Linked DNA regions of Homo sapiens: region 1 is linked to region 2. Evidence: fine-mapped expression QTL. Tissue or cell type: whole blood. Region 2 holds a variant in brackets; the other region holds the start of a gene. All regions are shown on one strand. Distances are from middle to middle.

Region 1 (6,645 bases), 56 kb before region 2:
TGCCATTTTTTATACTTCTCACACTACATGGGCTAAAATCGGGAGGGTTGGCTTCCCAAAGGAAAACTGGGGTCCTGTTACCAGAAGATAGAGAAGATGGTCAGATCTCCACTACAGAACTCTCCTCTGGCTTCAGCCATTTTCTCTGAAGGAGGTTTGGGAATTGAAGGTTTTCAAAAGACACTGATTTGTTCCATTAATGAAGCCAAGGAAGGAGACAAACCAGCCCTCTGAGAAAGCTCACCAGTTTGGCCCAGGCGCGGTGGCTCACGCCTGTAATCCCAGCACTTTGGGAGGCCGAGGCGGGTGGATCACGAGGTCAGGAGTTCGAGACCAGCCTGGCCAGCATGGTAAAAGCCCATCTCCACTAAAAAAAAAAAAAAAAAATTAACTGGGCATGGTGGCATGTGCCTGTAATCCCAGCTACTTGGGAGGCTGAGGCAGGAGAACTGCCTGAACCTGGGAGGTGGCGGTTGCAGTGAGCCAATACTGCTCCACTGCACTCCAGACTAGGCGACAGAGTGAGACTCTGTTTCAAAAAAAATTAAAAAAAAGAAAGAAAGAAAGCTCACCAGTTTGACCAGACAATCGGCTGGGAGAGTAGCTGAGTTCCAGCAATCTTAGCAGCCTGGGACCACGCTCTGTGTGATAAGTGTCTCATGCATCCATGTGAAGAGATCACCAAACAGGCTTTATGTGAACAACAAGGCTGTTTATTTCACCTGGGTGCAGGCGGGCTGAGTCCGAAAAGAGAGTCAGCCAAGGGTGGTGGATTATTATTAGTTCTTATACGTTTTGGGATAGGAGGTGGAGTTAGGAGCACTGTGTTGCGGGCAGGGGGTGGATCTCACAAAGTACCTTCTCAAGGGTGGGGAGAATTACAAAGAACCTTCTTAAGGGTGGGGGAGATTACAAAGTACATTGATCAGTTAGGGTGGGGCAGAAACACATCACAATGGTGGAATGTCATCAGTTAAGGCTATTTTCACTTTTGTGGATCTTCAGTTGCTTCAGGCGATCTGGATGTATACGTGCAGGGCGTAGGGGATATGATGGCTTAGCCTGGGCTCAGAGGCCTGACAATAAGTGTAATCTAGGTCTCTCCTGGTGCTTAGGCCTCAAGGGACCTATTTTCAGTTCTGTCTCTGGCTTCCTTTCAGAACCTTGCTGAATCTCTCAGTATGTTTCTACTCAAGCATTTTCCTGTGCAGACTAAAGACACTATCAGGAAATTAAATGAAACATGTATAACTTATTGGTCATATTCATAATCCCATCAGTAAATATTTAACACAGGCTATTTACCATATATATATCTGAAAATAAGGTGAGTTTTTTTTCTCCCCAAAATTATCCCTCTGCAAACAAAATGGCCTGATGTTTGAAACCTTCAGCAGCTCTCACATTTTGCAGTGCCCTCCCATTTACCTTATTTGGATCAATCTTTGTTGTGTTTTTACTGTTTGGGGAAGCTTATCTGTAAAGGCTGCACATCTGTACTGGTTTTGGCTGCTTAGAGAGGTTGCCTCACAGAATCAGCATTATTTAAAAGAGAAAGAGGAAATACAGACTCAGTAACTCTGGTTTTACGAGTTACAAATTCACTTGCAAATTTTATAAACAAGTCTTTTAAGATCACAAATTTGTACATCTAAAACAAATTTGTAAATAAAAGTGCTAGAGTTCATGTGAGTAGGTAGTTAGGTCTTTTAGTTTTTATTCTGCCTAGGGCACTGTCTCAAGGGGTCCTGAGAATGTGTGCCCAGCTAGTTAGGTCTTGAGATAGTGTCCGAGAGTATCATCATCATAGCTGTAGAAAGTTTCCTATCTCAAAAGACCAGACATGTGCAGATAATATACACTGAAAAAGTGTTCTGGACAACTTGAAAAAGGGGACACTGGTACATCAAAGATACAGATGCTACTGGTGCAGATGGAGAATTTGAGTAAAACCATTACATGAAATGTGAAAGAAAAACAGCCATGTTTTTACAGTAATAAACCATAGCACTCAATGTGTGAAGTTAACTAGGCACATGCCCCAATGGTTCTTTAAATAACATAAGAGACTATTTCGTCTACAACCATAGACATGTGGCTGCGTCTTGATTACTGCACTATAAGACTTGAAATTGAGTAGGCTGATTCCTCCCACTTCATTATTCTTTTTCCAAAATTGTTTTAGCTATTTTAGTTCCCTTGCCTTTCCATATAAATTTCAGAATATTGTCTAAATGTACAAAAAGAATCTGGCTGGGATTTTCATAGCAATTGTGCTACACCTGTATAAGCATTAAACCTGGGGAGAACTGATATCTTTACTATGTTGAGTCTTCTGATTTATGAATGCAGTATGTTTCTGCATTTGTTTATTCTTTGATTTTTTTTTTTTTTTTTTAAGACGGAGTCTCACTCTGTCACCCAGGCTGGAGTGCAGTGGCACAATCTCGGCTCACTGCAAGCTCCGCCTTCCGGGTTCACGCCATTCTCCTGCCTCAGCCTCCCGAGTAGCTGGGACTACAGGTGCCCGCCACCACGCCTGGCTAATTTTTTTGTTTTTGTATTTTTAGTATTTTTAGTAGAGACGGGGTTTCACGGTGTTAGCCAGGATGGTCTCGATCTCCTGACCTTGTGATCCACCTGCCTTGGCCTCCCAAAATTCTGGGATTATAGGCGTGAGCCACCGTGCCCGGCTATTCTTTGATTTTTAAAAAACTTTAAAAATTGCTTATTTATTTTAGAGATGTCGTCTCGCTTTGTTGCCCGGGCTGGTTTCGAACTCCTGGATTCAAGCAATCCTCCCTCCTTGGCCCCCCAAAGTGCTGGGATTACAGGTGTGAGCCACTGCACTCAGCCTTGATTTTTTTTAATCAAGCATTTTGGAGTTTTTAGCATACATAAAGCTCTGTACATATTTCGTTAGATTTACACCTATTTCATTTATTTGAGTGATTGTAAGTGGTATTCTATTTTTTAGTGTTCTTGTGATCATTGCTAGTATTTAGAAATCCAGTTGATGTTTGTGTGTTTATCTCATATCCTGCAACCTTGCTGAACTCAGTTTAAACCGGAGGTGTTTTCCTGATAGATTCTTTCGGATTTTTAAAATGTGGACAATCATGTCATCTGCAAATCAGGACGGTTTTCTTTCTTTCTTATGTATAAATGTCAATGAGTATGCAACTATGATGTGCAACTTTCAGCATTGTCCAAAAGTTACAGAGGATGATGCAGTGACTGTGACTTTGAAAAACAAAGAATGATCCTTAAATCACAGCTGCTGCAGCCATTTCAGCTATTTGGCAGAGGTGGTAATGCTGCCTTTTGGACCTACAATACAACCAAGTCTTTGTTCGAATCATCTCACTTCCTGGCTATATTCTTAAGAAAGGAGGGTGCTTCATGCGCTGAGCTCATGGCACAGGTCCCGCAAGTGACCTGCGAGCCCCACCGCTAGGGGCCGCTTAGGTGCAGCCCCCAGGTGGGCGGGGACTGCGTTTCGGGGCGTGGCCTCCGCCGCGGCAGCCCCCGCCCAAGCTCCTCCTAAGCGCCTGGGGGCGCTGTGGGTCGCTTTGGGTCGCGGGGGCGCTCTTTCTCAGCATTCTTGTTTCGTACTGAGGCTTTCGGGACGGCGGCGGGAAGATGGCGGCCTCCAGGAATGGGTTTGAAGCCGTGGAGGCAGAGGGCAGCGCAGGGTGCCGGGGAAGCTCGGGAATGGAGGTGGTGCTTCCTTTGGATCCTGCCGTCCCCGCCCCGCTGTGCCCTCACGGTGGGTCAGAGTCTGGGCTCAGCCTAACTGCCGGGCGCTGAGGGTGTGAGTTGGCTTGGAAGTGGCTTTTGGGGCTCCTGTATTTTTACCCGCCTCTTTCCCTCACCAGTGTGCTGCCTAGAAAATACTCCTTCCTCGGAACGCGGTGTTTTTCAACTTACTTGAGAAACATTCAGAGCAAGTCTCCACTCTTGTGGTTTTGGCTCCAGGACTATTTCATCTCTTTTGGGGGGAAGGGGCAGAAAAGTAGGCAAAGAGAAGAATGCATGGTATTGAATAGTTCTCGTTGACAAGTACTTGGGGATTTCATTTGTTGATTTGCTCTCCCTTCAAAAATAAAAAATTAGGGAGAAAAACAGTGTAATTCTTGCCTGCGAACTAGACTCAGTTTTTCTCTAACTTACAGAAAGTGGGCGTTTCCAGCTCAAAGCTCAGGTTTTCACTGCAAGGGTAACCGCGCAAGAGATGTCAAAGTCCTCAATTCTCTGAGTCCCTTCCTTGTTTTAGTCTCAGGTTTGTAATATTCACAACGTAGACAGCAACTGTACCGACAATAGCATTTTCTTTCTGAAGAGACCGGTTTTCAAAAATTATTTATAAGTAGTCACTGCCGGAATGTTGTAACAGAGAGAAAAGAAACATTCATTAAACACAGAGAAGCCGGCGTGGTGGCGTGCACCTGTAGTTCCAGCACTTGGGGGGCCGAGGCGGGCTGATCGCTTGAGCCCAGGAGTTTGAGACTAGCCCGGGCAAAAATGATGACACTCCGTCTACAAAAAAAGAAAAACAGCTGGGGACACGCAACTGTAGTCCCAGCTACTCGGGATGCTGAGGCGGGAGAATCGCTTGAGGCTAGGAAGCAGGATCTCAGTGAGCCATGATTGTGCCAGTGCGCTTCAGCCTGGGCGACAGAGGGAGACCCTGTCTCAAGAAAACAAAACAAAAAACCCTAACAAAACAAAAAACAACCAACCAAAGAGATGGATTTAATTATGATAAATTGTGCCTAAAGCTCAAACAAATTTTATTTAAGGGCAGCGAAAACTAAGAACTTGACGTAGATGACCATTACTTGACACTTTTTTTTTTTTTTTCTATTCTGGAACTAGGACCCACTCTTCTGTTTGTAAAGGTGACCCAAGGGAAAGAAGAAACTCGGAGGTTTTATGCCTGTTCAGCCTGTAGAGATAGAAAAGACTGTAATTTTTTTCAGTGGGAAGATGAAAAGGTATATCAACTTTTTGGATATTTATTTTTTATTTTTGGTATGTGTGACAATTTTGTTGAGAACGTGTAAACCAATAAAAATATGCGGTCTGAACATACAAGATAAATCTCTTAAGAGAGATGGAGATACTATGTTTGTTGGTTCAGAAAATGAGTTCATGTTTACTCTGATTACTGATATCTTAAACTACTGTCTCAAAGTCTTATTTCCCCATAAGACTCTCTGAGGTGGTAATATTGGGTGGGGCTGATCTTCTGTGTGTTAGCTTGGGCTTCTGTAACAGAAGTACCATAGGCTGTGTGGCTTAAACGACAGACATCTGTTTCTTACAGTTCTGGAGACTGGGAAGTCCAGGATCAAGATGCTGGCAGATCTAGTGTCTGGTGTAGGTCCTGTCCTCTTCCTGATTTGCAGAGGGTCATCCTTTCTTTATATCCTCATTTCCCAGAGAGAGGAAGCAAGCACTGTCTGTCTTAGAAGGACACTAATCTCATTCCTGAGGGCTCTACCCTCTTGACGTAATTACCTCTCAAAGGCGCCTCATTTAAATACCATCACATTGGGGTTAAGGCTTCAACATACGAATTTTAGGGGGCACAAACATTCAGTCGATAGCACCGTTGGCAGATACAGATTGCTCACTAAAGAGAAATCATGATCATTCCAGAAAGTGTTAAAAAACACTTTTTTTGAACATTTGCATTGAACATCCCTTATACAGCTATTAGATGACCAATGAAGGCACTTAGAGATATAGTCATGAGCTTGGTATCCTCTTGAACTCGGCTCCAGTTGAAGTTTCTGAAAACTTTGACCAGAGAATTTTCAGTTTTGTTAGGTTTATGGTAAAACAGTATTATATACCACTCTTCTGCAGACCCATTAAGGTGAATACTTGGTTTGTGTCCACCTTTTTGCTATTGTGGATGATGCTACAGTGAACATATGTTAATCTCTCAGTGCTTTAATATGCTGGATATTGCTTCAAGCTGCTCTAGAATTTTCCCAGTTTTCGCTGTTTTGTTTTCTCCTGAAATGAATGCCTGTTGAGTTGGTTGAATTTCTGACTTCTTGATGTCAGAATGTGATGCCAGTTCTTCTAGGATGATAGATATTTCACAGTTTATTCAATGGGTTTTGTACTCTCTTTCAGTTGTCAGGAGCTAGACTTGCTGCCCGAGAAGCTCATAACCGAAGATGTCAGCCTCCCCTGTCCCGAACGCAGTGTGTGGAAAGGTACTGATGCAGTGTCATTTTTCTTTATTAGTTTAGCTGTCATTTTTTTTGTTATTGCCTTTTTCTGTGCCTTTAAGTTTACTTTCATTTATTTATTTTTATTGTAGTTACATATATAATATAAAATTTGCCATTTTAATCATTTTCAAGTGTGCAATTCAGTGACATTAAGTACATTCATGTTGTTGTGTAACCATTGCCCCTATTCGCAAAACTTTTTCATCACTCCAAACAGAAACTGCCACCATTATGCTGTAACTCCTCATTCTACCTCCTCCCAAACCCTAGTAACCTCTGATTTATTTTTGTGTGTTTTTTTTTTTTTTTTTGAGACAGGGTCTCACTCTGTGTTGCCCAGGCTGAAGTGCAGTGGTGCTGTCACGACTCACTATAGCCTCAACCTCCTGGGCTC
Region 2 (6,645 bases):
TACAGTTCTACAGCTTAGAGATGAAAATAACCAAAATATGAGGTAGAAAGTGGTTAATTTTACCTCTCCTTGGCTTTACGTCTCATGTGTAAAGTTATAGGGGGTGACAGTTCATGCTTTATTGAAGGACATGATATTTACGTCAGGCTTTGAGGGACAGATCAGATATAGACACATGATGGCAGGAAAGGCTGGAGAAGGCATTTCAGATTGAATAGCAAGTAATTCCACAGTAGGAAAATTGTGAGAAAGCTATTTCTTTGTATCAAATTTTAAGAAAAATATTTAGACATGCTTAATGCTTAAATATTTGAAATTTTTATTACTTTTTTTCCTGTGATTATTTTCACATCTCTCACCAATATTTGATTGGAGCTATGGATTACAACTCAGAGTATGGGGATACCTATGACAATAGCTTATTTAGAAGAGGCACTGCTTCTGGAATAGTTATCCCCAAAACAAAACAAAAAGAGAAAAACATTGCTATTTTAACCGAGCTAATTTGAATGATTATACTTTTTTCCTAACTAAAAGGGATGATAGTGATTAAGTCCTCTTCCTTTATTGCTAAGAAAACTAATGTTACACAGTTATTAATTGGAGATTACCAGACAGCTAAATTTGACATTATATGAAATTATATGACATTATATGAAAATTCAGATTGGGCTACCATGTGACTATGACTTGTAATTTAAAAAAATTGATTTGTGTTAGAAATATCTGATAGTTTAATAATTATTTATGGTAATATTAGAATTCTTTCCCATGTGTTTTATTTATTTGTGGTCAGTGAAAATTTTTTTTTCCATTGTGGTCTAGCCACTTGAATTCTGGCTACTATTACAACTGCCTCGTTCCTACATTTACTCTACTTTAAATAATTATTTCCACTGAGTAATCCAGGATAAAGTAGAGTTTTAAAAACTTAAAGAAGCTTATTGAAGAATCTTTTTTTTTTTTTTTTTTTTTTAAAGACAGAGTCTTGCTCTGTCGCCCAGGCTGGAGTGCAGTGGCCTGATCTCGGCTCACTGTAAGCTCCGCCTCCCGGGTTCATGCCATTCTCCTGCCTCAGCCTCCCTAGTAGCTGGGACTACAGGCGCCTGCCACCATGCCCGGCTTACTTTTTGTATTTTTTAGTAGAGACGGGGTTTCGCCGTGTTAGCCAGGATGGTCTTGATCTCCTGACCTCGTGATCTGCCTGCCTTGGCCTCCCCAAGTGCTGGGATTACAGGCGTGAGCCACCACGCCCAGCCTGAAGAATCTTATAAAATATTTTCCTTAGAATAAACCTTCAAAAATTGAATACAACTTCATAATCATATTAGTCTGGGATTGCTGTACCATTGTCAGTGTGATTCTGTGTGGTAGTCAGTAACGTGCTCAGCCTTTAATTCTGTGAACTTACATGGAAACAATTTGCATTTTGATACTCTATTGTAGGCCCTTCATTGCTTCCTAAATAGCCTCAGCTAGTGTGTTTGGCACTAATATACTATTTCATTAGGGGAAATCATCTAGTATCTTTCAGGACTAGATCTTATCAGGTTTAATTCCAAGAGCAAATCCTGTGAGATGTGGATGCCTGATAATTCTTAAATAATATTACTTTTTTTCTCAGAGAAGACACCTAAACTCCTGTTAATAGTTACTGCTTTCAAAAAATATATATAGTGAAATTGACAAAGCAAAATTATTTTTTTCTTTACAATAGTGAAAAATAACAGCCTTTTTAGCATACGTGACATAAAAGGTCTTTCCAGCTCATGCATTTTACAGCTATCTTATATTAATTTGTTTTTCCTTGGTGTTAATTTTTCTTTAGTTGCTAACTGGAATGATGCTGGCTCCCTCTTGTGGTTAAAGCTCATTTTATCAGTTACATAAATACCTATAATTTAAAGGACAAATACTAGGTCAATTTAATTTTAAGACAAAATAAAACTGACTTATAGTCAGTTCATCATCATTCAAAAACTTTATCTCTGGAAAGTTTTGTGTATTCATATTACAAATGAATATTTTCAAATATTTTCCTCCTGTTTCTGTTTACCGTATCCCCTAGTGAAAGTTCATTCATTTTTAGTCCTGCTTATAAGTGGATGAGCCAAAGAGAAACTTAAATTTTGTGTACAGGCACACATGGCTTCATTGACTTTGCCATTAGAGATTATACTATATTTCATTAAGTTTGCTAAATCATCACTTATCAAGAAATTATCCTACTTTAAAAAAGTGGGGAAATAGATTTATATAGTATGCATGAATCAGTATAATACTGTAAAGATGACTTTTTTGGTTTTAGTTTTCAATCCTACTCCTTCTGTAGACTGTTCTATTTTGAACTGATAAGGTATCCCTAGTCCATAGTGCAAAATCTAAATATGAAAAAATTTAAAGTTGTCAAGCAAAATTCTGCATAATAGTCATGTGGAACTAATAATAGCTAATACTTATTGAGTGATTATTATATGGTTAGCAGTTTGCATATATAAATAATTTAAAGTAGAGTATATAGTAGAGCACAGATCCTGGAATCAAGCTGGTTCTGCAAGTTCCTCATGGGGTGTTCATTGATTTCATAGCATTTTCACCTAAAAAAGTAGGGATAGAGAGGGGGTGACTATCCCCCTTATCTCTGTCTCCCAGCTCCTTGAAGTCAAAGATTATGCCCATTCATTTTTGTTTTCTCAACAGGTAACATATGCTGAGTAAACAAAAAGTGAGGCATAAATTGAACCCATTAGGGGATACATTGTTTATGAAGCTCTTTTCCCAGGTTTATTCCTGACAAGATCAAGAATAAGCTTTTCCTATGGAGAAGCTTATGAGAGGTGAACCTAACAATTGATATTGCTGGGTAATCAGGGGAGGAGTCCTGGTTTGGCATTGTTGTAGCTCTGGCCCCTTCCTTGGTTCTCAATATGTTGAGTGTCATGGCATGATTCTGCTAGCTTGGAGAAGTGAATGGATGGGCCAGTCATTTTCTCAGCTGCAGGTCGCCTGTAACTTAGTGTGGAGAACACCAGAAACAAAGAATCTGTTTTGTCTGGTGTGGTTCAGTGTTTTCAGAGGGTGAGTTCCAGCTTGTTTATTTTGAAGCTAATCTTCAAGATAAGGACCACAAAATGCTGATAACCCTGCGTGGCACTTGTCAGGACTTTTAGATCCGCTGAGGAAAGGAAAATCTGTACGACTTAGGAAACAGGCCCTTTCAAGGCTTCTCGGTTTTTTCCATTGTGCTGTTTCATTTTTCTGTCTCTGCTGACTGCCCCATGTATCAGCTCCTCTCCAAAAAAAACGGAATTCAAGGATTTGGAGATTGAAGTGCTGAGTTGAGCAATACAGATGTACAAAAAACTTTTTTAAAAAGTCCAATCTCACTAGCTTTGCATTTACCTCTGTGGTGTGTTTGCCCCGGACAGCTTGTTCTAAATCCATAGTAACCATCTTTTAAAGAATTTTTTTTTCTCAAACATTTTGCTTGGTTAGGCCTCTGACTCTTCCCTTGTTGTTATGGTTAGGAGACTGAGGATTTATGCTTGCAATACAGTAGATTCTTTCCCTTCTTCTATTTTCTTATTTGGTTAGCTAGTTAATTAAACTTCAACATAATTACATAATTCACTGTGCTCATTCTGTGAAATAATTTAGCACCTTGTTTTCCAGAGCTGTCAGAAAGCAGAAGCAAAGAAAAAGTAATAAGATGAAAATGGAGACCACGAAAGGACAATCCATGAATCATACATCTGCTACAAGGAGAAAGAAAAGGAGGGAAAGAGCCCATCAATATCTTGGCTCTTAAATGTCCAGTGACTGGAGAATAAGAAAGATTTATGGTCCAACCTTTGATGCCATTTTCTGAAAGTGCCACACTGGACTTAAATTCAGCTGCTTCCAGAGGTGTGCACCTTTCTGAGCTAGATAACAGGCAGGTGGCATTTGCTGGTTTACAGTCCCTTATCTGCCTCTCTGGAGAC[A/T]TGGGGAGTTGTTCCATCTTCAGCCAGTTTACTAGTTCTTTCAGCATTCATTTTTCCTCACTTTAAGTCTCTCCCAGTCACATTGTTCTATTTTTATGTTTTCATTTTTTTTGAGATGGAGTCTTGCTCTGTCTCCCAGGCTAGAGTGCAATGGCACAACCTCAGCTCACTGCAACCTCTGCCTCCCGGGTTCAAGCAATTCTCCTGCCTTAGCCTCCTGAGTAGCTGGAATTATAGGCACATGCCACCACGACTGGCTAATTTTTGTATTTTTAGTAGAGACGGGGTTTCACCATGTTGGCCAGGCTGGTCTCGAACTCCTGGCCTCAAGTGATTTGCCTGCCTTGGCCTCCCAAAGTGCTGGGATTACAGGCATGAGCCACCTCACCCAGCTCCGGTCACATTATTCTAGCCTTTTTATCCAAAAAATGGGCAGACCATTCTTTTGCAGAAGATGTCAGAAGAAAATGAAAGTGAAAACCTATGCAGTTTGTTTACCGTGAACATAAAAGTATGTTAATTTAAATAGGAAAATATTTTATGTTAAATATGAAACAATAGTTTAAACCCCACTTGAAAAGTATAGCGTACAATTATTTTTAGACTGAATTTGAAGATGATGGAAAGGGTTTTTACAAAGGCACTGTTTAGATATACAGATTATAATTATAATTACATTATTATTAAATATTTATTCTTCAAGTACTTTTTGCAGTTGTCCTCTGACGGTCTAGAATCACTTAAATGCTTGTTGAATGAGTGAGATGTTTAGAACTACGACTTGCTCTGTCATTCCAGTGTCGTTTAACCTATGCAGTAAGATTCTGTCTTTGTAAAAGTAGTTCGTAGCAGAAGCCAGGATAGTTTGGTAATTAAACGCCCAAACTAAACTCCTCATTCCTACCCTTAATATTTCCTGGCTGTATGATCTTGGCCAGGTCACTCTCTAAAAGCCCCGGTTTCTTCATTATTATCATTATTATAATGGGGAGAATAACAGCTATACCTGAGGTTTGTTTTGTGATTAAATTAAATGAGACCCAAGTGCTTGGCTCTCAGTTCTCCTCTGTCATTGGTGTGTTAGGTTAACAATGAAGATTGTTACTGGGTCTAATGGTAATTACCTTTTGGCCTGATAACAAAGCATTGAAGGCAGTAATTTGAACTCCCAGAACAAACAGTTCATCTCCCCGTTTCTGTGCTAGTTATTGTCTCCTTAAGACTGAATTGTTTTGAATGACTTATATTTGCATAATGACTTTTCTCTTGTTTCCAAACAACTGCTGTAGAGCAGATTTGAAGGCATCTTTGTTTGGGGTTAGGCAGAGCCCTGTAAGTAAGGGTGGAGGAACTGCACTCTATCTGGTATTTAAATTCCAGGTAAGTTAGGACTGATGCCTGGTGTAGAATGCTCAAGTGTGGCCCAGATCAGTGTGGCAGTGGTGTACATCAGTTGATGTCAAAAGATGAGTTATACCCCTGGACTTCATAAGCATCAGAAAGCTCTTCTCCCTTTTGTTACATGGAGGGCTATGATAGGAGGGGCACATTTGGAGGTGACTGGGTGAGATATGAAGTTTGTAAAACCGTTGTGAGAGTTCCCCTCTCTGATTCAAGCAAGGATAGGGACATTGCCTGACTTTATGGTGTTCACCATTCCATGATAAAATCTATTGAAATCTCCTCTGAAACTAAGACACCTGAGGGACTATGACTACTGAAAAATTGAGTTCTGAAGGCCAACAGTTATTCTCATCACTATATTGCCTTAATGTTAAGATACCATCAATTATAAAATACATCATTGATTTTATCATAGCTTTTCAGGGGGAGAAGAGAAATAATACTTCATTAATTAATTTTTAGATCATCTGATTTCAGAAATACTGAAATGCAAAAAAAAAAAAAATCTTAGAATTGAGGAAATAGTTATAATCAGGAATAATGTACTTATTTATTTTGAGACAGAGTCTTGCTTTGTTGGACAGGCTGGAATGCAGTGGTGGGATCTCTGCTCACCGCAACCTCTGCCTCCTGGGTTCAAGTGATTCTTGTGCCTCAGCCTCCCTGGTAGCTGGGATTATGGGTGTGTGCCACCACACCCGGCTAATTTTTATATTTTTGTAGAGACTGGGTTTCGCCATGTTGGCCAGGCGAGTCTCAAACTCCTCATCTCAGGTGATCTGCCCGCCTCAGCTTCCCAAAGTGCTGGGATTACAGACGTGAGCCACCACACCCAGCCAGGAATAATGTACTTTAAAACTTTATTACTGTCTTAGAAAGTTAAAAATAGGAAATTTGGTGATTTTACACTTATATTCAATTAATACTAATTTTAAGGACTTAATCTCTATTCCTTTTTCAGAGAATAAACTAATTGGTAGCCTGTAAAAATGTGTCTCTGGGAGGTAGAATGTGAAGCGGGATGAGGTCATTTGTTCTTAATAGAAATCTGAACATCTTAACATTAAGATACCTTCTCAAAATAGCAATAGAAGAAAATCCCTAAAATTTGACAGATAACATTTTCTAAGCTTTTTAAAAGGACATTTTTAATAAATACAGCTAAATTTCATTCTTCTTATATTATGAAATTTAATGAGAAACAAAGTCTTTTTGTAGGCTGGATTTCATGTTTTTTCCTAATTAGTCCAGTACCTAG

The links. PIP is the estimated chance that this variant, and not a neighbour inherited with it, causes the effect.
Region 1: it holds the start of ZCCHC4, and the variant in region 2 is fine-mapped to the expression of ZCCHC4 in whole blood (TOPMed, PIP above 0.99).

Annotation. Positions count from the first base shown.
Region 1 is chr4:25,309,168-25,315,812 of GRCh38, forward strand. It overlaps ZCCHC4 (zinc finger CCHC-type containing 4), which reads left to right and starts at 3,607. Exons shown (of 13, transcript NM_024936.3): 1 at 3,607-3,769; 2 at 4,879-4,997; 3 at 6,151-6,233. The coding sequence starts at 3,643. RefSeq lists enhancers at 854-913, 1,534-1,673, 3,261-4,137, 3,666-3,725 and silencers at 3,386-3,455, 3,463-3,667.
Region 2 is chr4:25,365,357-25,372,001 of GRCh38, forward strand. It overlaps ZCCHC4 (zinc finger CCHC-type containing 4), which reads left to right. Exons shown (of 13, transcript NM_024936.3): 13 at 3,673-5,027. The coding sequence ends at 3,808. Among named protein-coding and RNA genes, the nearest start is that of ANAPC4, 8.6 kb to the right of the region's middle. The variant A/T (reference allele first, on the strand shown) is at 3,984.